Linked DNA regions of Homo sapiens: regions 2, 3, 4, 5 and 6 are each reported to be linked to region 1. The links are microRNA targets in miRTarBase. Many come from high-throughput screens and were not tested one by one. Region 1 holds a microRNA gene; each other region holds the end of a gene's coding sequence.
What was found. The annotated mature microRNA hsa-miR-1227-3p reads CGUGCCACCCUUUUCCCCAG and lies in region 1 at 3,181-3,200, opposite strand. An mRNA with a match to its seed (bases 2 to 7 or 8) in the 3' UTR can be bound and repressed. Matches are read on the target gene's strand: a 7mer-m8 pairs with bases 2 to 8, a 7mer-A1 pairs with bases 2 to 7 and ends in A, and an 8mer does both.

Region 2: miRTarBase lists TRDMT1 as a target of hsa-miR-1227-3p. Seed matches in the 3' UTR shown: 7mer-A1 at 953-959.
Region 3: miRTarBase lists DDX19B as a target of hsa-miR-1227-3p. The part of its 3' UTR that is shown has no 7-base or 8-base seed match.
Region 4: miRTarBase lists SLC12A8 as a target of hsa-miR-1227-3p. Seed matches in the 3' UTR shown: 8mer at 1,507-1,514.
Region 5: the mRNA of C1GALT1C1 is a reported target of hsa-miR-1227-3p. Seed matches in the 3' UTR shown: 7mer-m8 at 2,619-2,625.
Region 6: the mRNA of SLC25A15 is a reported target of hsa-miR-1227-3p. Seed matches in the 3' UTR shown: 7mer-m8 at 4,341-4,347 and 7mer-m8 at 3,203-3,209.

The regions. Positions count from the first base shown.
Region 1 is chr19:2,230,882-2,235,915 of GRCh38, forward strand. It overlaps MIR1227 (microRNA 1227), which reads right to left and starts at 3,268; the gene lies at 3,181-3,268. PLEKHJ1 (pleckstrin homology domain containing J1) reads right to left here. Exons shown (of 6, transcript NM_018049.3): 3 at 4,881-4,947; 4 at 3,269-3,359; 5 at 3,117-3,180; 6 at 2,272-3,024. The coding sequence ends at 2,959. MIR6789 (microRNA 6789) reads right to left here; the gene lies at 4,948-5,034. DOT1L (DOT1 like histone lysine methyltransferase) reads left to right here. Exons shown (of 28, transcript NM_032482.3): 28 at 1-1,697. RefSeq lists enhancers at 3,673-4,252, 4,255-4,863 and a silencer at 4,889-5,034.
Region 2 is chr10:17,146,254-17,149,253 of GRCh38, forward strand. TRDMT1 (tRNA aspartic acid methyltransferase 1) reads right to left here. Exons shown (of 11, transcript NM_004412.7): 11 at 1-2,887. The coding sequence ends at 2,787. Among named protein-coding and RNA genes, the nearest start is that of CUBN, 18 kb to the left of the region's middle.
Region 3 is chr16:70,333,249-70,336,248 of GRCh38, forward strand. It overlaps DDX19B (DEAD-box helicase 19B), which reads left to right. Exons shown (of 12, transcript NM_007242.7): 12 at 273-2,057. The coding sequence ends at 334. DDX19A-DT (DDX19A divergent transcript) reads right to left here. Exons shown (of 5, transcript NR_039997.1): 3 at 572-712. Among named protein-coding and RNA genes, the nearest start is that of DDX19A-DT, 12 kb to the right of the region's middle. RefSeq lists an enhancer at 1-531.
Region 4 is chr3:125,080,013-125,085,189 of GRCh38, reverse strand. It overlaps SLC12A8 (solute carrier family 12 member 8), which reads left to right. Exons shown (of 14, transcript NM_024628.6): 14 at 1,138-2,546. The coding sequence ends at 1,300. LOC124906278 (a long non-coding RNA gene) reads left to right here and starts at 3,124. Exons shown (of 3, transcript XR_007096045.1): 1 at 3,124-5,177.
Region 5 is chrX:120,623,472-120,626,471 of GRCh38, forward strand. C1GALT1C1 (C1GALT1 specific chaperone 1) reads right to left here. Exons shown (of 2, transcript NM_001011551.3): 2 at 2,203-3,000. The coding sequence ends at 2,739. Among named protein-coding and RNA genes, the nearest start is that of C1GALT1C1, 5.1 kb to the right of the region's middle.
Region 6 is chr13:40,809,497-40,814,561 of GRCh38, reverse strand. SLC25A15 (solute carrier family 25 member 15) reads right to left here. Exons shown (of 7, transcript NM_014252.4): 7 at 2,102-5,019. The coding sequence ends at 4,895. MIR621 (microRNA 621) reads right to left here and starts at 3,796; the gene lies at 3,701-3,796. It also overlaps the pseudogene TPTE2P5.

The sequences.
Region 1 (5,034 bases):
CAGGGCCACGCCTGGCACCCATCCCTTGGAGCCTGTGCTGGTTCTCCCAGCTGCTGTGGGTGTGCTGGGGCCAGGGTGCACTGCTGAAACCTGGCCTCTCTGGCCCTAGGCCCCAGGGTGACGTCGGCCCCCCACTCTGCAGCCTTGGCGGGTGCCTGGGACTGGGTGTGGAAGGAGAGGAGCTGAGGCCGGGGTGTAGCAGGCAGGCAGGGCCACTCCAGTGCTTCTGGAGCCCTGAGCAGTCAGGGCCTGGGTTGTCTGAGCAGTGGTGGCTCTGTGCCCTCCCTGGAGGATGGGATCTGGGAGTCTGAGCTCCCCGCATCTGGCCCTGGGCTGTGTGGCACTTGCTGAGCCCACCTTCTCAAGTGCTTGCTCCTGTGAGATGGCATCGGGGAGCCCCTTCCCCAAGGTGCCACAGATCCACCCTCCAGGGAGCTGCCAGCCCTGTGTTCTGGTTCCCAAGGGCAGGATGGACACACGTCACATCCCTACCACGTGGCCTCCAAAGGGAGCCACGGAGGAAAGGCTTCTGTGGTTGCTAGGTGGGGGAGTCCTGTGTGGGAGGGCCTGAAGACCCCTGCTTGTGCCTGGTGAGGGGGGTGCTGCCTCCCCCAGCCCCCAACAACCTCTCAGACCCCCACCCTCCAACATAGCTGAGTTCTGAAGATGGTGCTCCGGACCTGTCCTCTTAAGTGGTGCCCAGTGCCCTCCCCACCCCACGTTGGTGCTCTCAGCTAGAAGGTGCTGTGCCTCTGCCTGAGCCCCAAGCCCCGAGCCTGGCCTTCAGGACAGGCAGCCTGCTCTGTGTCGCCACGGGCCGGATACGCCACAGGGTTGATGGCAGAGACGGCCGAGTCCCTGGTCTAGAACAAGACACATTCTTTAAACACTGTATTACTTCTGCCTCCCTCTAGGTGACAGTGGCAGTCCGGGTGCCATCACGGGTCCTGCAGATGGCCATGCAGGGCTCCTGCCCACGCAGGCCACCGTATGTTCAGGACACGCACTGGGTCTCAGAGCCACTGGCCCAGGCAGAAGTCTCCTTGAGCCCACTGGGTCATATGCGTGTCACCACACGTGAACTAGTGTGGTGGCTGCCTGCGGACACCCTCCTGTTCTGAGCCCTGGGCCTGTGTTCTTCTCAGACACTCCCAGACTGAGGGGTGGTGTGTGGCGGGTGGCAGGGTGGCTGTGGAGACTGGGGATCTGGAGCCTGGTGCTGGCACCTGGCCTGAGTTTCCGTGGGCAGCTGGCGGGGACCTGTGCTGCTGCTGCTGACTGTGGGTGGGCGGGCGGCGCCTGGGAGTGGCTCTTGCTCAGGAATTGATAGGAACCCTAAAAACTAGGATACCCCCTCCTCGGCCCATGAGGCACGCACAGTGACTTATTTAAGACTTCCCCCTTAATTTATCTGCCCCCAGGATGCGTCAGTCTGTTCAGTGGTCAGCAGGCCCCCCACCCCCCGCCGACTGCCCTCGCCATCGTGGTCAGACCCCCCTCCCAACACAACACGCTGCTGGTCTGTGTCAGCCTTTGTAACGTGGGAGGCTCTGCCGTGTCTTCCGGGTGAACTGTATTTGGATTGCGCGCATTGTCACGGTCCGCCCCTGGGCTGCAGGCGCCCCTTCCTCTGGGCACCCCTGCATTCTGCATCCCCACCTCTAGACGCTGTAATAAACAGACTGTTTTCACTCGGACCTGGTGTGAATGGCAGCCTTTCTTCCAGGTGGCATGAGGCGTCTCCTGGCGGCCAGTGAGAGGCCCCGGCTAGTGTGTCATCGCCGAAACGGGGAGTGGAGGGCCTAGGGGTGCTCCTAGCAGAAGCTCCGGGGGCTGACACCAGGACACCCTGGCCTTGGGGAGGCTTATGAGGGCACCAGGCCACAGGCAAGGGGAGGCTTATGAGGGCACCAGGCCACAGGCAAAGTGCCTTTTGATGAACGGAAAACCAGATCTGCGACCCCAATGACATCGGCAAAGTCCTTTTCACATCAGATGGACCAAAGCCCGCCCAGGCCCCAGCCACACTCCGGGAGGGCCCGTGAATGCCAGAGGCAGGACCCCAGGTCACCACAGGATTCCTGATACCACACAGCAGCTCTGTTCTCCCCAGGCCTGGGTCCCAGCCTCCACCTGTCCTGGCTGGGGGTTCTAGCTCTCCCCTCAGTGCAGGAGGCCCAGCCACTGCCTCTCAGGACCCTGAGCCTTACTTCCCTTGGGTGGGGGCTCCCTGGCTGCCCCTCCCCTCTCCTTCACTTCACCGCCATCCAGTGTGGAAAAGAGGTACCTTTATTTGAACAGAACAAGCACCCTGGCCCCAGGGCAACCACTTCCCCAGGTGCACAGCCAGGGCCCTCCTGTCTGCAGGAGAATTCACAGCTGGTGTGGGACTCAGCCCCTAGGCCATTCACAGCTTTGTCTGGCTCTGTACATTCATTCAGCACGGGGCAGGGGGGCCATGCCACCAGCCTGGGGGCTCACCAGGCCCCTGGATGCACACAACTCAGGCAGGGCACCTGTGGGAAGGCGCATATCCTGGCGGCAGCAGCACGTGGCACCAGGTGCCAGGCCAGTTAGGTGGATCCTGGGGCCCCAGGGAGCGCAGCTTGCTGGGCAGTTTCATAAAATGCAGCCCCTGCCCACACCCACCTGGCTTCAGGCTTTGGATGTCTCCAAACCAAAAACCTCCCACTGAAAATCCAGGTGTGATGGCCGGGTGTGGCGGCTCATGCCTGTGATCCCCGCTACTTGGGAAGCTGAGGCAGGAGGATCACTTGAGTCCAGAAGGTCAAGGTCACAGTGAGCTGTGGCACCACTGCACTCTAGCCTGGGCAACACAGTGAAACCCTGACCCAAAAACCAAAAACCAAAACAAAACAGATCCAGGCATGGCCAAGCGATTCATGGCTGGGCAGGGCCAGTCCCGTCCCGCTGCACGCTGACCACCGTGCCCTGCGCTCACGCCTGCAAGCCACTCAGCTGGAACCTGGCCTCCTCGGATATGCCGAACTGTTCCAGGGGGTCCTGTGGGGAGGACGGGTGGCCATGAGCCAGGGCTGGAGGACTGCCTCTGCCACCTGCAGCCCCACCCCGGCCCTCTGCAGCCCTGCACACACCTTGCCCGTCACCTTCCGGATTTCGTTCCTGTAGAAGATGAGGCTTCTCCGCATGAACTCGTAGCTGGGGAAAAGGGTGGCACGGGGTCAAATGCCCGCTCTGCATGGCTGCTGTGCCCACCCCAGCAGTGCCCACCACCGCCTGGCCCCACCTGGCCCGACGCAGAGCCTCCATCCACTCCTGACACTGCTCCTCGCTGCTGCACTCAAAGTGATACTTCCTCTCAGGGTCCTCAATGAAGCCTGGGGATGGAACACCTGTGGTCGGTCCTACCCACAGCCACAAGCAGCTTCCTCTTGCCATTGCCCATAAACTGTCCCTTCTCTGGCCCCCACAAAGATGTGTTCATGTCCTGACCCCCCAGAACCCATGAGTATGGCCCTGTATATAAACAGGGTCTTTGCATATAAACTAGTCAAAATGAGGTTGTCGCCAGGTGCGGTGGCTCATGCCTATAATCCCAGCGCTTTGAGAGGCCAAGGTGGGAGGATTGCTTGAGCTCAGGAGTTCGAGACCAGCCTGGGTGACATGGCAAAATCCCCATCTCTACAAAAACAAAAATTAGCCAGGTGTGGTGGTGGGGCCTTGTAGGCCCAGCCACTCCGGAGTCAGAAGTGGGAGGACTGCTTGAGCCAAGGGGGTTGAGGCTGCAGTGAGCTGTGATCACGCCACTGCACTCCAGCCTCGGAAACAAAAGATCCTGTCTCAAAAATAAAGAGGGCCGGGTACGGTGGCTCAAGACCGTAATCCCAGCACTTTGGGAGGCCGAGGTGGGAGGATCACCTGAGGTCAGGAGTTCGAGAGCAGCCTGGCCAATATGGCGAAACCCCGTCTCTACTAAAAATACAAAAATTAGCTGGGCATGGTGGCGCGTGCCTGTAGTACCAGCTACTCGGGAGGCTGAGGCAGGAGAATCACTTGAACCCGAGAGGGGGAAGTTACAGGGAGCCGAGATTGCACCACTGCACTCCAGCCTGGGCGACATACCAAGACCCTGTCTCAAAAAATAAGCAAATAAAATAATAAAGTGAAGTAAAAAGGGGTTGTCAGGGTGGGCCCTAAATTCTGCTTGGCGTCTGTGTAGAAGGGGAAATGTGGGCACAGACGTGATGCAAGGAGGACAAGGTGACGCTTCCACAAGCCAAGGAACCTGGAGGATACTGGCCACCACTAGGAACTGGGAGATTCCCCTCGGCCTCAGAAGGATTCGGCCCCACCCACACCTTCATCTAGGATTTCTGGCCTCCAGAACTGTAGAGAATGTTTCTGATATTTAAGCCACCTGGCCTGTGGAATTTTGACAGCCACTCTGGGCAAACTAGCAGGGACTCCATCTTTCCCCGCAGAAGGGAATCTCTTAAGACCCAGGAGAACACCCCCCTCTCACTCCTCCTACCCCCACCTGGGATTTCCAGCCCGGGGCCATATAACAATGCTAGACCCATGCTACTCTTGGCAGCTGGGGAAACGCTTTGGGTGGGGCTGGCCCACCTGCCCTGTAAGTACAGCCTGGGCCCACAGGGAACAAAGAGCAGAGTCTGGGAGGGACCCAAGCTTAAGTGGACTCGGCAGGTGGGAAGGGTGGTGCCCGCCAGGAGAACTTGACCTTGAGCTGCCCGTGGACAATGCACTCTTGTGTTTGAGGAGGGTGGCGCCAGGCTGGGGACACAGAGGAGACCTTGGGCGCCCGGGGAGGGGAAAGTGCGGCGCTGCGGGTGCCCCGGGCTGCGGGAAGCGCCGCTGGCTTCCCTAGCCCCACTCACTGATGGAGAAGGTGCCGGGCTCTTCCCGGACGACTCTGCAGCGCTCCAGCAGCAGGGCTCCGACGGGCTGGAGGAGACACGGGCGCCGGGACGGGGCAGTGAGCACCCGGCCTCCGAGGGGCCCAGCCTGGGACCCGCCCGCGCGCCCGGGACG
Region 2 (3,000 bases), not on the chromosome of region 1:
TTTGAGGAAGAATAAGTTGGCTGAAGGTTGGAGGTATTTTCTCATCTTTCCAGACATAGGGCAGTGCCCATGGTGAAGGTCTGATTTCACAGACAGAACACCATGGCCAGGGTCCTCTGTGAAGGTGATGCCATCATTCCTCTTTCTTGCCTGCCACTGAGGATTGTCAGGCTCTGACCCCTCCTACAATGACTACCCACCTCTTCGAAATCATTTTCCAACTATGACTCATTTTGTTTACATTAATTGATTTGGTCATCTCTTAGAATTAGTTTTGGATCCTGAAGACATACTAAAAATATGAAGCAGGGTAATAAATACCTTACAATTATCTGGCAAGCCGTTTAAAAGAGCAGGGATGATGGGAAAAGGAGAACGAAAAATCGGTTTACTGTAAGGTATGGTGAAGACTGAATTACACATAGTTCTCCTGAAAATGAGAAGCTATGTTTTCCAACATCTGAATAAATGTACAAGTCCAAATATCAGGAAACAGAATTTCCAGTGCAAATTTTATATACAGCATTATTACCAAAAGCATATAGCAGACATTCCATAAAATAACATTTTCCAAATTAATTATGCATACATATACATCTGCTAATTGAATGACACTGGTAGATACATCTTCATTAAGATGTGAGTTTTATGCTTGTTACTGCATATTTTCAATTATGAATTAAGGGCAAGAATCACCGTCTTCCTGTGAATACATTCCCATAATTTAAGAATTCCACTAAGCTACATTCTGTCTACCAGTTTGTAAGCAAATGTCTCTACAGACCTTTCAAGTATTTATAGTTGGTGCACAGTAACTCGACACTTATTTTGTATAATGTTGCTCAACCGAATGTGGGATACTATAATTATAGCATAATTATTCATAGTTACAGTAAAACTCTAAACCATTTTATTTAGAATATTTCAGCAGTGAACAGAACCTACATGAAAGTGTGCCAAAATAATTTGTGATTGTTTACTGAAATTTATGAGACTTGTAATAGGCTCTGTCTGAACACATATGAAAAATGTAGATAGTGATAGTTTCTGTATATGGGCTGGCTTACAGCTTCCCTACATTCATATTTATCTATGAGTTCTGAAAAATTGGTAATAGAGTATGATTTTTTCAATTGCAGTAAAATATACATAATGTAAAATTTATCATTTTAACTATTTTTAAATATACAGTTGCAGTGGCATTAAGTACACTCACACTGTTGTGCAACCATCCTCCCCATCCACCTCCAGAACTTTCTCATCACCCCAATCAGAAACTTTGTATCCATTATGCACTAACTACCCATTCTCCATCCCCACAGGGTGGCTTATTTCACTTCGCATAATGTACTCAAGGTTCATCCATGTCACCGCATATGTCAGAATTTCCTTCCTGCGGAAGGCTGGTACTATTCCACTGCATGCACGGAACACAATTCCTGCATCCATTCATGGGTGAATGGGATGACACTTGGGCTGCTTCTACCTTTTGGCTACTGTAAATAATGGTGTTATAAACGCTGGTGTACAAATATCTGTTCAAGTCCCTGCTTTCAATTCTTTTGGATCTATAGCCAGAGGTGGAATCGCTGAATCATAGGGTAATTCTATGTTGAATTTTGTGACGAACCTCCATAGCGTTTTCCAACAGCAGCTGAACCATTTTACGTTCCCACAAGCAATGCACAAACTTCCAATTTATCCACCTCTAAATAGCTGATTTTTAAGAAGAAAAATTTGAATTAAAATCTTGTAATATGATTTCTGGACTTGTTTCTTTTCATCTCTCTTCTCTTTGTCACTTGCTTTTATCACAAACCATAGAATTTATGATGCAAGACTTAGTTTGATTAGAAACCCTAATTCCAAGAGGTCTGCTGAGGAAGAGAGACAGAGAAAGTTAAAAGTCATAAAAGTTCATTGAGAGTGTATGTTGCTACAATAAAGAACAACTGGGGGGAGGGGAGTACTGTCATATGACATGGGATCAGAGGGCAGCTTCCTCCCTGAAATCTTAACGTCATGCTACATTCCTCAGCGTGCAAAGGCAAATTCAACTCAGAAGCTGAGAAGACAAAAACAAGCTTTGATAATAGTCAACTAAAGGAAAGTACATACAAAATGAAGAAGGAAAAATGAGTTTTGTCCTTCAGATAGAGGCTGAGGAAAATGTAGATAATGTGCACCAACAGTTTCTGTGGCCGCTTCATGGAGAGGTAATCAAACATTTAGGATTATTTTTCCTGACATATTCTTCAGTCTGCTGTATAAACTGAATGATGATAATTTGGTTTACATATCATATGCATTTGTTTAGATGAAATAAAGAAATATTTACAGGATTGGAAATTAAGTAAAACATTCAATGGGCTAGAATTAGAATCATTATTTTAAAATTAGAAATAAAAAACTTCTTTAATTAACATAAAAATATGTTATGCCTGTTATGACACTTCACAAGATACTCATGTAGACACTAAAGCTCTAGTGCTCCTTGATTTGTTTATAAAATTGTTTTTAAAAAGAATATTCCACATATATATTTATCAGTTTCATATGAAAATATACTCTCCATAAAGCATAACAATAGTTCGTATTTTATAAAATACAGTAATATAAATTTGATGAAACACATGGATTTTTTTAATAAAATCCAAATTTCTTAATAAGGACAGATTAAAATAATTTAGTTAAATTTCACCAGAATTAGTTCAAAACAGAATTTCAGAATTACTCTCTGAAAATGAAGGAATATCATATGACCATCTTTCAGAGTTATTTCAAAATTATTCATATAAGATTTTGATTAGTTTAGCTACTACATGCACGTTGAGACTATTTCCAAGTAGGCGATAACGCTGTTTCACTGTTATCTTCTCAGGAAATCCTAAAAAGACAAAGAACAATTTAAAGAAATCATTTGTAATCACAATTTCCAGAGATGAAAGGATGTATCCTTTAGTAAGGGCACAGCGGTCATTTCATAAGTAAATCACTAAG
Region 3 (3,000 bases), not on the chromosome of region 1:
AGGCTCTGTCCCTAGCACACTCCCCTCCTTTCTGACCATATGGCAGTTCTCAGGGAGCACACCTGGAGACTTCAGGACCCAGGGACTCCAAGAACAGCTCCCCTGTGACTGGGCTTCGGGGCGTGGGGCTCTGACTGTTGCTGTCAGTGACTAGGGGCCCTGCTGCCCCCTGCTTAGGCACCCGGAGCCTTTGGGGCTGAATGAATGATTGCTGTGGCCCAAGATGGGGCACATTCCTGGGCAGGGTAGAGACCTGTGTATCTTTCCCCCAGATAAGAAGATAGAAAGATTGGACACAGATGATTTGGACGAGATTGAGAAAATAGCCAACTGAGAAGCTCCACCAGCCACTGATGCCAGCCCTGGCACTGCCCCTGCACAGGAGACAAGTGCGTTCAGGGCACAGGCCCCGACATCACCCCAAGGACAACGGCACAAGTAGAGAGAAACTACCTACCTCACTTCAAATTATGTTTGGACTTGACAAAAATGTATGCAAATGATGGGGGATGGTAGAAAAAAATTATTTACACAACCTTGGAAGATTAGGCATGAATACACAGAGATTTACCTTTTGGAAGTTTCATCTTTTAATTTGGCCAGTGTTTCCTTCATGCTAATCTAGATGCTGTGGCTGATTACTTGCCCAGGATCTCCTGTGGCAGCCTCTGCTTGTTCTCTGGCTTGGAGTGGATGGGGCAGCCTCCAGCTCCTGTGGAAGTAATGGAATAGTGGTGGAAAGGGAACACAGAGAGGGAGGCTTCCAGTAAGATAGGTGTGTAAGCCCAGCCATCATGTTTGGAATGGCATGAGGCAGCAGAGGAGGCCTGAGAGCTGCTGCTTTGGACTTGGGGGTGGGACAGCTCATCTGAGTATTGCCAGCCCCCTGTCCTAGTGCCCACAGCAGAAGGGAATTTGTTAAATAAGCATGGACCAAAATGCCAACCTCTCGGTTGTGTATATGGGTTTGTGTCACAGGACTGTGACCTGTTCTCGGTGGGTGCAGTCTGTGTAGAGTGCACATCTGATTATTGGTGGGTCCTGTGCCTGTGCTTAAGCAAGTCCTGTGGAGAAGTCATCATGGAGAATTAGTGGTGGCCCTAGCGTGCCACAAAACCTGGTCTCATGAGCATTTGCAACATCCCTTTTACATCCTTAATATCCCCTTACCCCACAGTAGCCCCAAACAAATGTGATCTGAGGTTTAGATCCTCAGTGAAAATTGTGGTTTCAAGTCTTCATGGCCAGCCTCAAGGCAGTTCTAGATGTGATCAGCAGTAGTCACAAATTCTTGTTTTGTCTCCACACCCAGAAGGCAAGTTTTGTCAGAGCTGGGGAATAATTTCAGATATTTGACATCTTGATTATAAAGGGCTTCTGAACATCTGTGTTTACTGCCTTTGGAATACAAACAGGTGCAACTGAGGGACTAGCTACACTACCACCATTTATCTGTCCAAGGCAAGAGTATCACCAAGGCCTTTGCTCCAGCCTTACTTGGCATCTTTGCGCAAGATAGTCAGAGCAAACAATAGTAATGGACACTTCTCACACCTGGCCAAGGCTGTTGGTACCCACGAAATGACAGCAAAGATGAGAGGAAACTGAATTGCAAGAGCAATATGAAACCCCAACCAAGAGGAGTACTCTGCAGTTCTTTGGCTTTGGTATAGAGTGGCCACTTTCTCTAGGACCTGGAAGAAGAGTTTGATGGCTAAGAACGATTGTGATCCTAGGTCTTCTTTGTACGCATCTCCGTATTTAGGCCAGATCTGCCTCCTGGGAAGGGAAGGGGCCAATGTCAGCCTCCAGGTGATTTCTTTAATCTGACATTACAAAGAGACCAACAGACTGCCAATTCTACCACATTCCCCTGGTGGGTACTCGACTATGTAGTTTTCTCTATGCTTCTGGTCAACTCTGACACATCTTGGAATTCTTGTAATAAGAAAAGAAATTTTTATACTTTTTTCTCCTTCCCTGAGTCCTGTGGACCAACCCTGAAATACTAAAAACAAGGGCAATAATTAAAGAAGTATAGACTCTTTAGTAGGCCACAGGCAGAGCAGACTCCCACCTTCTCAAGCACATACAACCTCTCTACTGGTGTAGCCCCAAGTGTGAGAAGGAAAGTGGGAAGCGGGGTGCTGCAGACTCTTTGACAGCAGGAGGAATGGGAATCTGGTAGAAGTATAGGTCAACAGTTCTTTTTTTTTTTTTTTGGAAACGGAGTCTCACTCTGTTGCCCAGGCTGGAGTGCCGTGGCACGACCTCGGCTCACTGTAACCTCTGCCTCCCAGGTTCAAGCGATTCTCCTGCCTCGGCCTCCTAGGACTACAGGTGCACGCCACCGCACCCAGCTAATTTTTGTATTTTTAGTAGAGATGGGGGTTTCACCATGTTGGCCAGGCTGGTCTTGAACTCCTGACCTCAAGTGATCCACCCACCTTGGCCTCCCAAAGTGCCAGGATTACAGGCGTGAGCCACCGCGCCCAGCCAACAGTTATTAATCAGGGGTCTTGGACCTCTAAGAATTCACTGGATGGGTTTCATGGAGTCTACGAAGTATATATACAGTAGTTTGAGTTTAAATGTATTTTCCTGGCTGGGTGCAGTGGCTCATGCCTGTAATACCAGCACTTTGGTAGGCCTAGGTGGGCGGATCACCTGAGATCGGGAGTTCGAGACCAGCCTGACCCACATGAAGAAACCCTATCTCTATTAAAAATACAAAATTAGCTGGGCTTGGTGGTGCATGCCTATAATCCCAGTTACTTTGGAAGGCCGAACCTGGGAGGTGGAGGTTGCGGTGAGCTGAGATTGCGCTGTTGCACTCCAGCCTGGGCAACGAGAGCAAAACTGTCTCAAAAAACAAAACAAAACAAAAAGGCCCGGCTCAATGACTCACACCTGTAATCCCAGCACTTTGGGAGGCTGAGGCGGGCAGATCACCTGAGGTCAGGAGATCAAGACCAGCCTGGCTAACACAGTGAAACCCCG
Region 4 (5,177 bases), not on the chromosome of region 1:
TCACCTCCTAAACTTTTTGGAGATTCAGCCTTTATAGAAGTTAATTCAGTTCTCAAGAACCCTCAGAGACCTATATGATTTATACATGTTCTCAACAACTGGCTGTAATGCCATAGTCATGTGATCTGAACTTCTATAGCAGGACATTTGGCCAGAGTCCGTTGAAACTTTCTGTTTAAGTTCCACAGATCAATAACATTAGATTTCTACCTTTTCGCAACTCTCAAATGTATTCCATATTCAAACAATTGAAACTTATTACTCATAAAGTAGATGATTCTTTTAGAGTAAAAATTTTAAGAGGAAATCCATGTCTAAGGTATGACTTACAGACCTAACACAGACTATAGGAACTGGAAGAGACCCGGGAAGATGAGAAAATAGAGACACAAGAAGGTAAAGAGGCTTCTGGAGGCCACCTAGCTGATTAGGGATGGAGCTGTGACTGGGTCTGCCTTCCGTAGCAGCTGCCTGGACAGCCAGCCTGAGCTTTCCTCACTCCTTTCTTCCTCTTAGCACTTTCCCTATGCATCCCTAACATTTTTCTTTCCCAGTTTATTCCAACCGAAACTGTATGCAGAGACTCCAGTGACAGTGGGATCCATATGGGACTTGCTCTTCACCTGAGGCCACCTTGGTGTCAAAAGCCTTTGCAGTCCCTCTTAGCTGCTTGCTGTGTGAGCCTTAGCTCTTGAAATCACTCCTTATTCAACTTTCTTTTCAATAGACCTACGAGAATTTTCTCTTTCTGCTCTTCTCAATTTTCCAGCCTCTCCATTCCATTATTTTTGACAAAAAAAAAGGCAAAGAAAAGCTACAGAGCCCCAACATGATACCATTTGGAGGGCAAAACCTCTCTTTGTTGGTTATTTCCTATCAGGTAGGTACAGCTTTATACTTTTCTACTTAGGGAGGGTAAATATCACTCTCTCTGTCTCTTTTTATTTTATTTGATACTTTGTATTTCTCATGCTTTGAGTTCATATATACCTGTACATATACCTTTCAAGAATTATGTTTTAAACATTTAAATACATGTGTGTTTACAGATAATTTCTTTATGCCCAGTAGACTCACCTCTACTGTTCAGTCTCTGTTCTGTCCTTCTCACCATCCTCTGTGTCTCTCTCACTGCAGGAGCTTGCGGTCCCCTCAGGAGCAGATCATCTTGGCGCCGTCCCTGGCTAAGGTTGACATGGAGATGACTCAGCTCACCCAGGAGAATGCAGACTTCGCCACTCGGGATCGCTACCACCACTCCTCCCTCGTGAACCGGGAGCAGCTGATGCCTCACTACTAGATGCAGTGCTGGGACCTTCCTCTTTTGGAGCTGTCCCATGTACAGTGGACCCAAGCTCAGGACCTTCGTGGAGCTGCTTCTCCAACCTGAGAAACTCAAGACCCATCCTCCCGCTGTCACTTTGGACAATGGAAATCTACATTTTCTTTTCCCTTTTTTTTTTTTTTTGAGACAGAGTCTCGCCCTGTCACCCAGGCTGGAGTCCAGTGGCACAATCTTGGCTCACTGCAACCTCTGCTTCCCGAGTTCAAGCAATTCTCCTGCCTCAGCCTCCTGAGTAGCTGGGATTATAGGCATGCACCACCACACCCAGCTATTTTTTGTATTTTTACTGGAGACAGGGTTTCACCATGTTGGCCAGGCTGGTCTCGAACTCCTGACCTCGTGATCCACCCGTCTCAGCCTCCCAAAGTACTGGGATTACAGGCGTGAGCCACCATGCCTGGCCAGAAATCTATGTTTTCTTAGAACATGTGGAAGAAGGAAAAAGACAAAAAAGGAAATCTGGATTCTGAGGACCACGTCTCACCCAGGGTGACATCAGGAATGGTGCTAGCCTCTGCAACACGACACCCAGTCTGAAGAGCTCTATACAGGTACTAAGACTAGCAGGGGACACCAAGACTCTGCACAACCAGATTGCTTGTGCAGAGGGCCACAATAAGTGTATGTTTTATATTTTATTGTATTATTTATTCAAAAATAAATAATACACTCACATGTTTCCACACCCAAAAGATATATAGAGTGAAAAGTCTCCCTCCAATCCTTATTCTCCACCTGCTCAGTTCCTGTCTACCCTGGCCTAGAGGTAACCACTATTCTCATCCGTACATCCAGCATTTCTTTATGGATATACAAGCAAATGGGAATGTAGAGTCTCACATTCTCTCTTTATACACAAAAGTTAGCACGTTATACACATGTTCTGCACCTTGCTTTTTTCCCTTAACAATCTATCTTGGAGACATTTCATATCAATTCATATGCCATTTGTTCATTTTTTTCATTGTATAAATGTGTTATAATTTATTTCGCCAGTTCCACAATGATGAGCATTTGGATTCTTTCCAATCTTTTGCAATGACAATCAGCTCTGCAGTGAATAATCTTGTACAAATGTGCAAGCATAAAGTGTATCTCTAGGATAAATTCCCAAAAGTGGAATTGCAGGATCAAAAGGTACATGCATTTGTAAACTATTATTGTTTAGTGAGGGTCTTTTTAATTAAAGAATTAACATGAATTGCCTAATGGTGACTCATATTCTCAAAAGAATTTGTGGTCCTCAACTCCTGGAATGCCTTCGCAGCTGTTTTGCAACATGAAAGGCATGAGGGGACAGGACTCTTTTGGTTTCCTTATGAGCTCTGCCTGACATTCATCACAAGCACCCAGTACCGGGGGCCGTGGCAGTAGCTTTCCCCAGAAAAGTTTAGCACTTGGCCCAGGGTCAGAGGCTTCGCCATCAAGCCATGGAGGAAAGTACTGTTGGATCACTTCTGGCTCCTTCTTCTATAGTGGAGGTTCTCATGAATCAGTGGGCTAACAATCACCTGGGATGCTTGTCAAAAGTGCAGATTTCAGGCTGGGCTTGGTGGTTCACGCCGGTAATCCCAGCACTTTGGGAGGCTGAGACGGGTGGATCACTTGAGGTCAGGAGTTCGAGACCTGCCTGGCCAACATGATGAAACCCCGTCTCTACTAAAAATACAAAAAATTAGCTGGATGTGATGGCGGGCACCTGTAATCCCAGCTACTTGGGAGGTTGAGGCAGGAGAATCGCTTGAATCTGGGAGGCAGAGGTTGCAGTGAGCCGAGGTCACACCACTGCACTCCAGCCTGGGCAACAAGAGTGAAACTCTGTCTCAAAAAAAAAAAAGTGCAGATTTCTGCATCTCACCCCTAAACTTTTTATTTGGCAAGTCTGAGATGGAGTCCTAGACTTTACATCTTTAACAAGTGCCTCAGGTGATTCAATGCAGGCAGTCCTTGGACCGCATTTTGAGAAATGCTGAGCTGTTGAATGGAAGGGGCTTAGTGTGGGTGAGGGCTGGGAAGGTCAGGATGAAGGGTCAGCTAGATCCTAATGTTCTCTCCTGGAAGATGAGGTTTCATTTATTATTACTGTTCTCACAATCTGGCTTTAGTTAAATACCAGATTTCTGAGCATCATTAGAAAGCAGAGTCTGAGTTGGCAGTAGGCATGTAGGAAGGAGAAATGCTGAAAAAGGTTGTAGCTATGAAGGGCTAAGTTGGGTGACCTTGGAGGACCTTTTTATTTATTTTTGAGACAGGGTCTCACTCTGTCATCCAAACCGGAGTGCAGTGGCATGATCATAGCTCACTGCAGCCTCCACCTCCTAGGTTCAAGTGATCCTCTCACTTCAGCTTCCTAAGTAGCTGAGACTACAGGTACACACCACCACGCCTGGCTAATTTTTTTGGTATATTACCCAGGCGCTTTTTAAGAAGAAGCTGTTCTAGTTTCCTGTGGCTACTATACCAAATTACATAAATCGGATGGCTTAAAAACAACAGAAATGTATTCTTTCACAGTTCTGGAGGCCAGACATCTGAAATCAGTAACACTTAGGTTAATTCAAGGTGTCAGCAGGGCCGAGCTCCCTTCAGAGGCTCCACGAGGGATTTATTCCCTGCCTCTTCCAGCTTCTGGTGGCTTGTGATCACATCACCCAAATCTTTAAAGCCAACATTTTCAAATCTCTCTGTTCCATCTTTACATCACCCTCTCCTCTGTGTATATGAAGTCTACCTCTGTCTCCTTTCTGTAAGGATACATGTGATTGCATTCAGGGACCACCCAGATAATCCAGGATCCTCTCCACATCTCAAGAGCTGTACTTTAATCACATCTGCAAACGCTTTGCCAAAAGAGGAAACATTCACAGGTTCCAGGGAATAGGACGTGGGTCTTTTGGGGGGCCCTTTTTCAGCCTATCACAGAACCTTTACTGAATCTGCTTTTTTGAATTCTACATAACAAGCTAAAAAAGTAACCACTCTGTTTAAGCCCTTTGGGAGCCCTCATTGCCTCCCCATTGATGGATTAGGTAAGGACATGATCTAACCTTGGCCAAGAGCACCTGAGATGGGGTCTCAGGGCTTCCAGAGATGGTTGCCCTTTCTCATGGATATTGTTGGCCCCACACATGATGCCTGTATGAGACTCATCGAGTTTCCAACTCTTCTAGCCCAGGAGTTGCCTGCCTTACACTGCCCTGGATTGTGTGACAAAGAGTTTAAGCCACTTCAATCCTGGGGTTCCTGCTCATTGCATGGGATGGATTGAGAACAGTATCAGGCACTGCTCGCCTTAAGCACCAAGTGCAGGAGCCACCTGTGCTCCCAAGGCGTGTGCTTCAGTTGGTGCTTTGTCACAGTCATTTACTGGTGATAGTTTAATAGAGAAGGGAAGGCTTTTGTGGGGAGTCCTGACTTTGCTTCAGAAAGGACAGCAGAATGGTAAGGAATAGGTCAAAATTCAGGTATGGTCTCATTTGCATTGTTGCCCAAGAGCTTCCTGGAAAGAGTACAGAGCTCTGTGGGCCAAGTCTTGTGGCCTAGATATCATGACTACATGTTGGGCCTAGAGCTCAGCCTGAGGGACCATAGTTGTCGTGACAGCCTCCAGTAGTTCCTGGAGCAGCAAGAATAAGGTCTCTTGTTTACAGAGGTTGTCCCACACTCCTCAGCAGTGTTGAGAAGAGGTTGTCTCCAGCACCTCCCTAGGAGACTGGTCTCAAAAGTCTAGAAACCAGTAATCAGATGTCACTCACTGTAGGATACAAGTGGAATGATATTCTACTAGGAAACAAGCATTTCTAAAAAAATTACAAAAATGTAAACTGGTAAC
Region 5 (3,000 bases), not on the chromosome of region 1:
AAAAGGAAGATTCAGTGATTGAACTCACACAAGGCAATGGTCTGGGGCCTGCTAAAAGTCATGCTGTGGTTTCCATTGCATTTGAGACAACCAGACAAACAAATACAACTTTTAGAGGAAACTTCAAGTTTTCTCTTATTCACATCTCAGCCAGGAGTGGGATCTTACACTTAGAATTGCTTAGACCTGTGCTGTCCAATATGACAGCCACTAGCCGTATGTAGAGTATATTCACAATCCCGATCAATTTCCATCAGACCTCCATTTTTTCCAACTCTCTCATCATGAGTGGGGTTAGGGTTATTGTTTTCGGTTACTGAATATATTATTTTTCTATGTAAAGCTAACAGACATATATGGTGATCAAATCTGTAACCACAACCTCAGTAGTACTATTTTCTGTTATTGATTCAGATTTTATCTGCAAGACTGGCTGCAAGTAAGTTCAGAGAGACAGCATATTATTTGAGACACCTAACATTTCGTTAAAAAAATACTCAGTATCGGCCGGGCGCAGTGACTCACGCCTGTAATCCCAGTACTTTGGGAGGCCGAGGCGGGCGGATCACCTGAGGCCAGGAGCTTGAGAACAGCCTGATCAACGTGGAGAAACCCTGTCTCTACTAAAAATACAAAATTAGCTGGGCGTGGTGGCACATACCTGTAATCCCAGCTACTCGGGAGGCTGAGGCAGGAGAATTGCTTGAACCCGGGAGGTGGAGGTTGGGATGAGCCGAGATCACGCCATTGCACTCCAACCTGGGCAACAAGAGCGAAACTCCGTCTCAAAAAAAAAAAATATGTATAAAGATACAATCAAGAGCATCAATTTGGCTTAAAAGGCAATGTTACCTTAGTACTCATTAGCAAAACACACAATGCAATGCATTCTGACATGTTTATGATGATACTCTGATGTACTAATGTAAGTGAAGATGATAAATGCAATAGAAAAATTTTAAATATACTGGTGTTGGGGGCAAGGTGACAGATAAGCTGTGTCACACTCTGAGAGATACTGTTTATTACTGTACTCACATTGAACATGATTTGATTGTAGTAATTGCATCTGAGACCACATATTAGGGGGCTTCATAAAGGGGTTTTGTTATTCTTCAAAACTAATAACGCTTCATCTTAACCAAAACCCTCAATGAGAATAATCAGAAATAAAGCAAAGTTTTACACACTACCCTGAGGATCAATAACTTCAAGCCCAAGGCCATCTTAAGGAAATTTTCTTTCTGGTTTGCTAAAGCTGTGGGAGACCATTACCATCATGAGGCCAGTTACAAGAAATATTGATCTCTAAAATGTCATGCTCTAACACTCTATGCGGACTCACAGCATGTGCTGGCCAGATTGCAGAACAAGTCAGCTCTAAGTATTTCACACATTTATCAGTACAGGAGCTATTGCATTTACCACTGGATTAAGTTTCTGAGTAGCCATTGAAATTTGGGAAAAGGTATGGTAATGCAAAGTAGATAGGTTAGGACCTCCACACTGAAAACAGATATGGTACAGCTGTGAACATGGGAAAATTCCCTGAACTTGTACAAGGAAACAAAATCCAGAACAGGCTGGGCGCAGGGACTCATGCCTGTAATCTCAGAACTTTGGGAGGCCGAGGCGGGTGATCACCTGAGGTCAGGAGTTCGAGACCAGCCTGGCCAACATGGCAAAACCCCATCTCTACTAAAAATACAAAAAATTAGCCAGGTGTGGTGGTGGGCACCTGTAATCCCAGCTACTTGGAAGGCTGAGGCAAGGGAACTGCTTGAAACCAGGAGGCAGAGGTTGCAGTGAGCCGAGATTGTGCCATTGCACTCCAGTCTGGGCGACAGAGCAAAACTCTGTGTCAAAAAAACAAAACAAAACAAAACAAAATACAGAACAGATTCAACTCAGGTAAGTGAAACTGCCAGATGGCCAAAACAAGTTCTTCAAATTTCCACAGAACTCATTGACCCAGCAGGACTACATTTTTATCCAAATTGCAGCTGGGAGCTTGATTAACTGAGAAACAACACAATTAAATGACATGACATTCTTCATAGGCACCAATCCAATGTCAGTATCTGCAGGCTGAAGTACAGACAGTTACACTGAAATTGCGTATGCTCTGAGGAATGACACTAAATTCGCTTCCAGGAAAATTACTCAATTTTGTAAGTAATTTTCAGTTTTTTTTCTCAGGGATATTTTTCAACTTTCACTTTAATTTTCTTTAGTTGCTTAGTTGTACATTTTGAGAAGGCAAATCCATTGGAACTTGGGGAGGCTTAGAACATAAATCAGTATTAGAAGTAAAGGGAACACACAGCTAAAAGTTTTACTTTAATCACAAATTCACAACTAGAGATATCATTTGCATATCTTAGAACGCTAAAGACCTGTTAAAATTTTTTAACCAATCAGCAAAAATATGTGCCCCACAGATTTCTAATGTTCATAATTTAGAATTTATCACATATAATATTTATTAATAGTTTATTTGCAAAATTATTATTCTTAAAACACTTCTTTCCAACACATTTACAATGTTCATGTGTTTTAAAGAAAAAAACCACCCTCATTTAAAAATGTACTACTGACTTTAATGTGTGGTTATACCAGTGCCACCAAATTAGAAAAGAAAAAGAAACATACAGCTGTATTGGATATGTAGTTACTACTACAAATAATGACAACACACGTCCTATACAAAGATCATATTCACGCTTTTCTACCACTTCTCAGTCATTGTCAGAACCATTTGGAGGTAAGAAAACCAATGCATCATTGAAAATATGCCCAAATGCCCTAAGGCGGTATACCCCATACATCATCACATGCATCTGATTTGGAGTCAGTCCATTAAAAGTAACAGCCATATCTGAACAACAGCCTTCTACTACCTGGTTGGGGTGATAAGTCATTGCCTCTTTAATAGAAAGCCCAACAGATTTGGTATTAAATACATCTTTTCCATCAGCATCTTCTGCATTTTCTGCAAAT
Region 6 (5,065 bases), not on the chromosome of region 1:
ATTCTTTCTCATCTGAGGGTTGGTATTCTTTTAACTGTGGTGTAAGTTGAGTACAGTCAGTTGGCTGAATTTCTTCATGTTTTCTGAGGGCCAAGGCTCTGTGCATTTGTGGTTGAATTCTTACCTTGGTTTTACAGGAAGGTATATTAGCAAACTATTTTTGTAGTTTGCTACATCTACTGAATTCCAGTAGATGGCGCTTAGGAGTAATGGTCGGTAGACAGATCTTAGCCACTTTGCTCCTTTGGATTTCCTGGTGTTTCTGGCTGTGCTCTGTGGTGCGGTGGGAAGAGAGGTGACCACCTCATCAGGTCCGCTCCTGGGCCCTGGGGGAGCCCCTTCCAACCAATGGCACTGTGCCCGTGTTTCTTTTGTCAGGTGCACTCCCTCAGGCAGAGGCTGAGGTAGGGAGATAGGCCATCCCTTTTCCAGACAGCTGGCCCTGCATAGGGAGGCATGCCCACTGCTGTGGTAGCCCACAGGTTCATGTAACTCAGCACTCTCAGTACTCTGAGAGTGTGGGCTCCTCTCCTGCTCTAGTGCCTGCTACAGATCTCGCCTTGGCACTTCCAAGCTGCCACACTGCAGCCCCAGTGCAAGCTCAGGCTTTTTGTTCCCTCCTCAGCTTAGGGTTGGGGCAGCTGTGCTGCTGGGCCCAAGCTGGGGGCCCTGCCTGAAGAGCAGGGAGGTCAGGCAACTCAACCCGGAAGACAGTCTGGCCTCCTCTCTGTAGAATGCTGACAAAGTAATCAGGCCCTTTGTTCCCTCCCTAGCCTGGGGGAAGCAAGGGCAGGTACTGTGGTGGCAGCAATGGCAGAGGCCTGTCAGTTGTTTCTGGGACCTCCATCCCAGAGAAACACAGAGCCACCACCAACTGATCAGGCAGGAGCTGTGCTGGGGGCCCAAGCCAGGAGGCACCCTGCCCAGTGAGCAGCAGGGCCAGGGACTCGTGGAAAACAGTCTGGGCTGCCTTTCCATATGTCAGCTATAGCAGGCTGGAGGCCCATGACCGCTATTGGGCTTTTTGCTCCCTCTCCAGCCTGAGGGCAGCAGGGGCACAGGCTACGGCAGGGCAGAGGGCCTGTTGGTTACTTCTGGGAGCTCCATCCCAGAGAAATGAGGGCTGTGACTAGCTGGAGTGCTCAGGTAGTGGGTAGCATGGCTGCGATGGAGGCCCAGGCCAGTGGGCCTTGCCTGGCAAGGTGCAGTGGAAGTGAGGCCTGCAATCTGTCCGCTCCTCAGCACCATGGATATGGCCCCTATCCTAGGGGCACACGAGAGAGCCTGGCCTACCTTGTTGGCCGGACTATGGCAGCCGGGGCCATAGCAGCTCAGGGATCCACATTGGCTTGAGCAGTGGCTCTGCCCAGACTCCAAGCAGCTCTCTGTGTCAGTCTAGAACCCCAGGGTGTGTGTGTGTGTGGGTGGGGGGGGGGGGGGGGGAGGGCAGGTGGAGTCATGGAGGATCTCCTGTGCCTGGGGATTGCCAAGGTCCATGGCAGAAGTGTGAGTCCCCAGGAGCCTTCACTCACTCACACTTTCCCTGCTGTAGGGAGCCTCCCCTTGCTCTGCACCAATCCCAGGTGGACAGCTGTCCTTCCTTACTCCCCTATGCTCTCCATGACTCACCACAGCTTCCCTGATGAATCCCAACACAGCCTGCTGGATGATCAACCTGAAGAGCTTGTGTTCACTCACCACTCTGTCTCCTCTTGTGAAGGCTGCGCACACTAGCTGCTTCTAGTCAGCCATCTTGGCACTTCAGATACTTGTTTTCTTAAGTAGAATTTAGTAACTTGGAATGGAATCATCCAAAACTTAAAAGCAGACAGTTTAACTATTTTTTAAAATAGAGGGAAAGAGGTGGAGGGAGAAAGTAATTCTAGTGAGCCAAGTTCCATAACTTCAGAGCATAGAAATATTTTTGTCACCTTACCTATGGTGAAATTATTTTACATGAGGTGTCTTGCTGACAGAAAACAATGCTTGTTGCAATAAAACCACTGCCTTGAAACACTACTATACATAACTCTTTAACATTCCTGACAGTTGTTTCCCAACATGGATGTAAAGAACTTCAATGAAATTCATCAGACTCAAATATTAAGTAAATAATTTAATGATAGAACACTGAAATTTCTTTAGACACAGTATTTTCAAGTTATATTTCTGCCTGGAGTACAGATATGAAATAGCACAAACTGTACTCTGAATTAAGCAAACAGAATGAATAAAAAAAAAATATTCTCCCAACCTAAGTTTCCGTTCCTCATTTCCACTTGCCTCAGACTCTTTCTATTGAACATATCTAGTTAAATCTCTAATGGACGGCCTGTGGGAAGATTTACTGCCAACAGGGATGACTGACTTCTTTCCGGACACTGAGCAGGGGACTGTGGGCTCTGAAGCAGTTTACTTCCTGTGGAAAGCCAGTCCCATTTCTATTTTACTTCGATCCAGGCCTATTCAGATAAAGCACCACTCAGTAGCTACTGACCATTTAAGTATGGAGAGAAAAGCAAAGTAGAAAAATGGTTTTCACTTAAAGAAAAAGCAAATGGAAGACCAGCCATAATAGCTCCATGGCACAAGAGACATGACAGGGATCTCCTCCCCAGATGTCCCCTGATGTTTGTCAGCCTCTCATATCCCTGGCCCTCTGGCTTCTGGCTCTGTGATTACAGTTGCCACAGAGGATTCATGGACAGCAAAAAGCTTAAGGAACCTGGAGGTTTTGTACAACATGTACATTCTGCTGACAGAAACACATACATGGTATGGACTATTATTAAAATTGATAGCCTGCTTGCACTCAGTATACAGGCTGCTTAGGAACACTTTATTGGGAGATACCCTGCTGGTGTTGGAGCAGCACAAAATGATGAGGCTAACTTAAGTAGTGACAAGAATGATCCTCTTATACCATATGGCCAAAGAACAGCTGTCCATCCCCAAGTCTATGGGGGATCAGATGAAGTGTGGAGTTTGGTTGGTTGGTCAGTGAATTTTTGGTCAGTGAATACATACATATGGCATAGTGAAGTACAATTGCTTTTCTTTTCTTTTTTTTTTTGAGATGAAGTCTCGCTGTGTCACCCAGTCTGGAGTGCAGTGGCACAATCTCAGTTCACTGCAACCTCTGCCTCCCGGGTTCAAGCGATTCTCCTGCCTCAGCCTCCTGAGTAGCTGGGATTACAGGCACGTGCCACCACGCCCAGCTAATTTTTGTATTTTTAGTAGAGATGGGGTTTCACCATGTTGGTCAGGCTGTTCTCGAACTCCTGACCTTGTGACCCGCCCGCCTCAGCCTCCCAAAGTGCTGGGATTATAGGCGTGAGCCACTGCGCCTGGCCTACAATTGCTTTTCTTATGTTCCATTGCTTTATAAACTCATATCACATATACAGTCATCATTAAGACTTACTGACTGCAAGTACCAAATGTAGAAGCCTCCAACACTGTAAAAGCATGGCAAGACAGGCTTCAGGATGGGTCAGACCTGACATTACTCACTGTGGAGTACAAGCACTGAGTTCTTTCTAGTTCTCTCTGAGAGAGGTTCACCCACTGTCACACAATCACCAAACAGGGAAGAAGGCTTCTCTTGGCTTTGGCTCTCACTGTTCCTTGGAAGGGTTTCTGATTGGTGGAGGCAGAGCAGACAGTGAGTGGCCCAAAGTGGATTGATGGCCCCAGGCCAGGACCCAGAGACAAAAGGTAAGCGCTGTTGCTAGCCACATGGGTCTTCATCAGAGCACAGCAGCACCGCCTACCACTCAGCCCCTTCCTCAATCTAAAGCCCAAGAAGGGAAGTTCTTTGGGAGAGAAGGGAAGCTGGTAAAGGCCATGCTATTTCCCAAAGGCCTGACCCTCTGGGCCACCCCTAGCAATATAGTCAGCGTGGAATATGATCCCACCTAGAAAATGAATGGCACTATTTTAAGAGTAGAGCATCTTGGGGAAATCTAGGATACCTACTCTGAAGCTTTTACTCAAGTGTGGAAGCCACACCAGTATGCAGGTATACTGTCTTACAAATCTAGAAGGATATTTTAGTTTTCAAGCACCCCATGAACACTTTTTAAAAAATTCAACCACTGGCTGGGCATGGTGGCTCACACCAGTAATCCCAGCACTTTGGGAGGCCGAGGTGGGCGGATCACTTGAGGTCAGGAGTTCGAGACCAACCTGGACAACATGGTGAAACCTCGTCTCTACAAAAAATACCAAAAAAAATTAGCTGGACATGGTGGCGCGTACCTGTAATCCCAGCTACTCAGGAGGCTGAGGTGAGAGAATCGCTTGAACCCAGGAGGCGGAGGTTGCAGTGAGCCGAGATCGTGCCACTGCACTCCAGTCTGGGTGACAGAGTGAGACTCTGTATCAAAAAAATAAAAAATAATCAACCACTTAGAAAAGTACACACATTAAGCAGACCCTACATCTAGAATGGGTTAAGCAACCATTTATAAGCATCTTCATGAGAAATGATCACCTCTGGGTTTTTCTGATATTTGAAATAAACAAGGTACCAAACTGTATTTCCCTCAACACATAACTGTCCAAATTGCATGTACAAGTGGAGGTTTACGTAAAAGCCCTGACAGAACTATATTCCACCTTTTGAATTAGGTGCATAAGGCTACTGACCACTCTATATTTTACCAAGAGCAAGAGCGGTCACTTTTCTATTTCAGTACAATTATGGACAGAAATGATATGATGCAAAATAGAGGTTCTTCCATAAAGTTTAAGATGTAGGGTAGAAGGGAAGACAAAAAGCAAAATTCCCAAGAAATCAGAATAACTTCACACTGGTCTTGTACTCCAAGAAACCCTGAGATGAACTGTAGTCCTCAAACACCTGTGCTTGGCTCAGGCCCACCAAGACACTTCAGTATGCTTCCAACTGGTTCATCATCAACTTCCTGCTATATTCGTAGGCCAAAAAGAGTGCTCCATTGGCAGGGAATGCTCGAATCATAGTAGGTTTCAGTCCAGAATATAAGGCCGTTATTCCTAGCAAATAAAAGGGCGGTCAAAGACTGCAACAATCCCTCCTTTG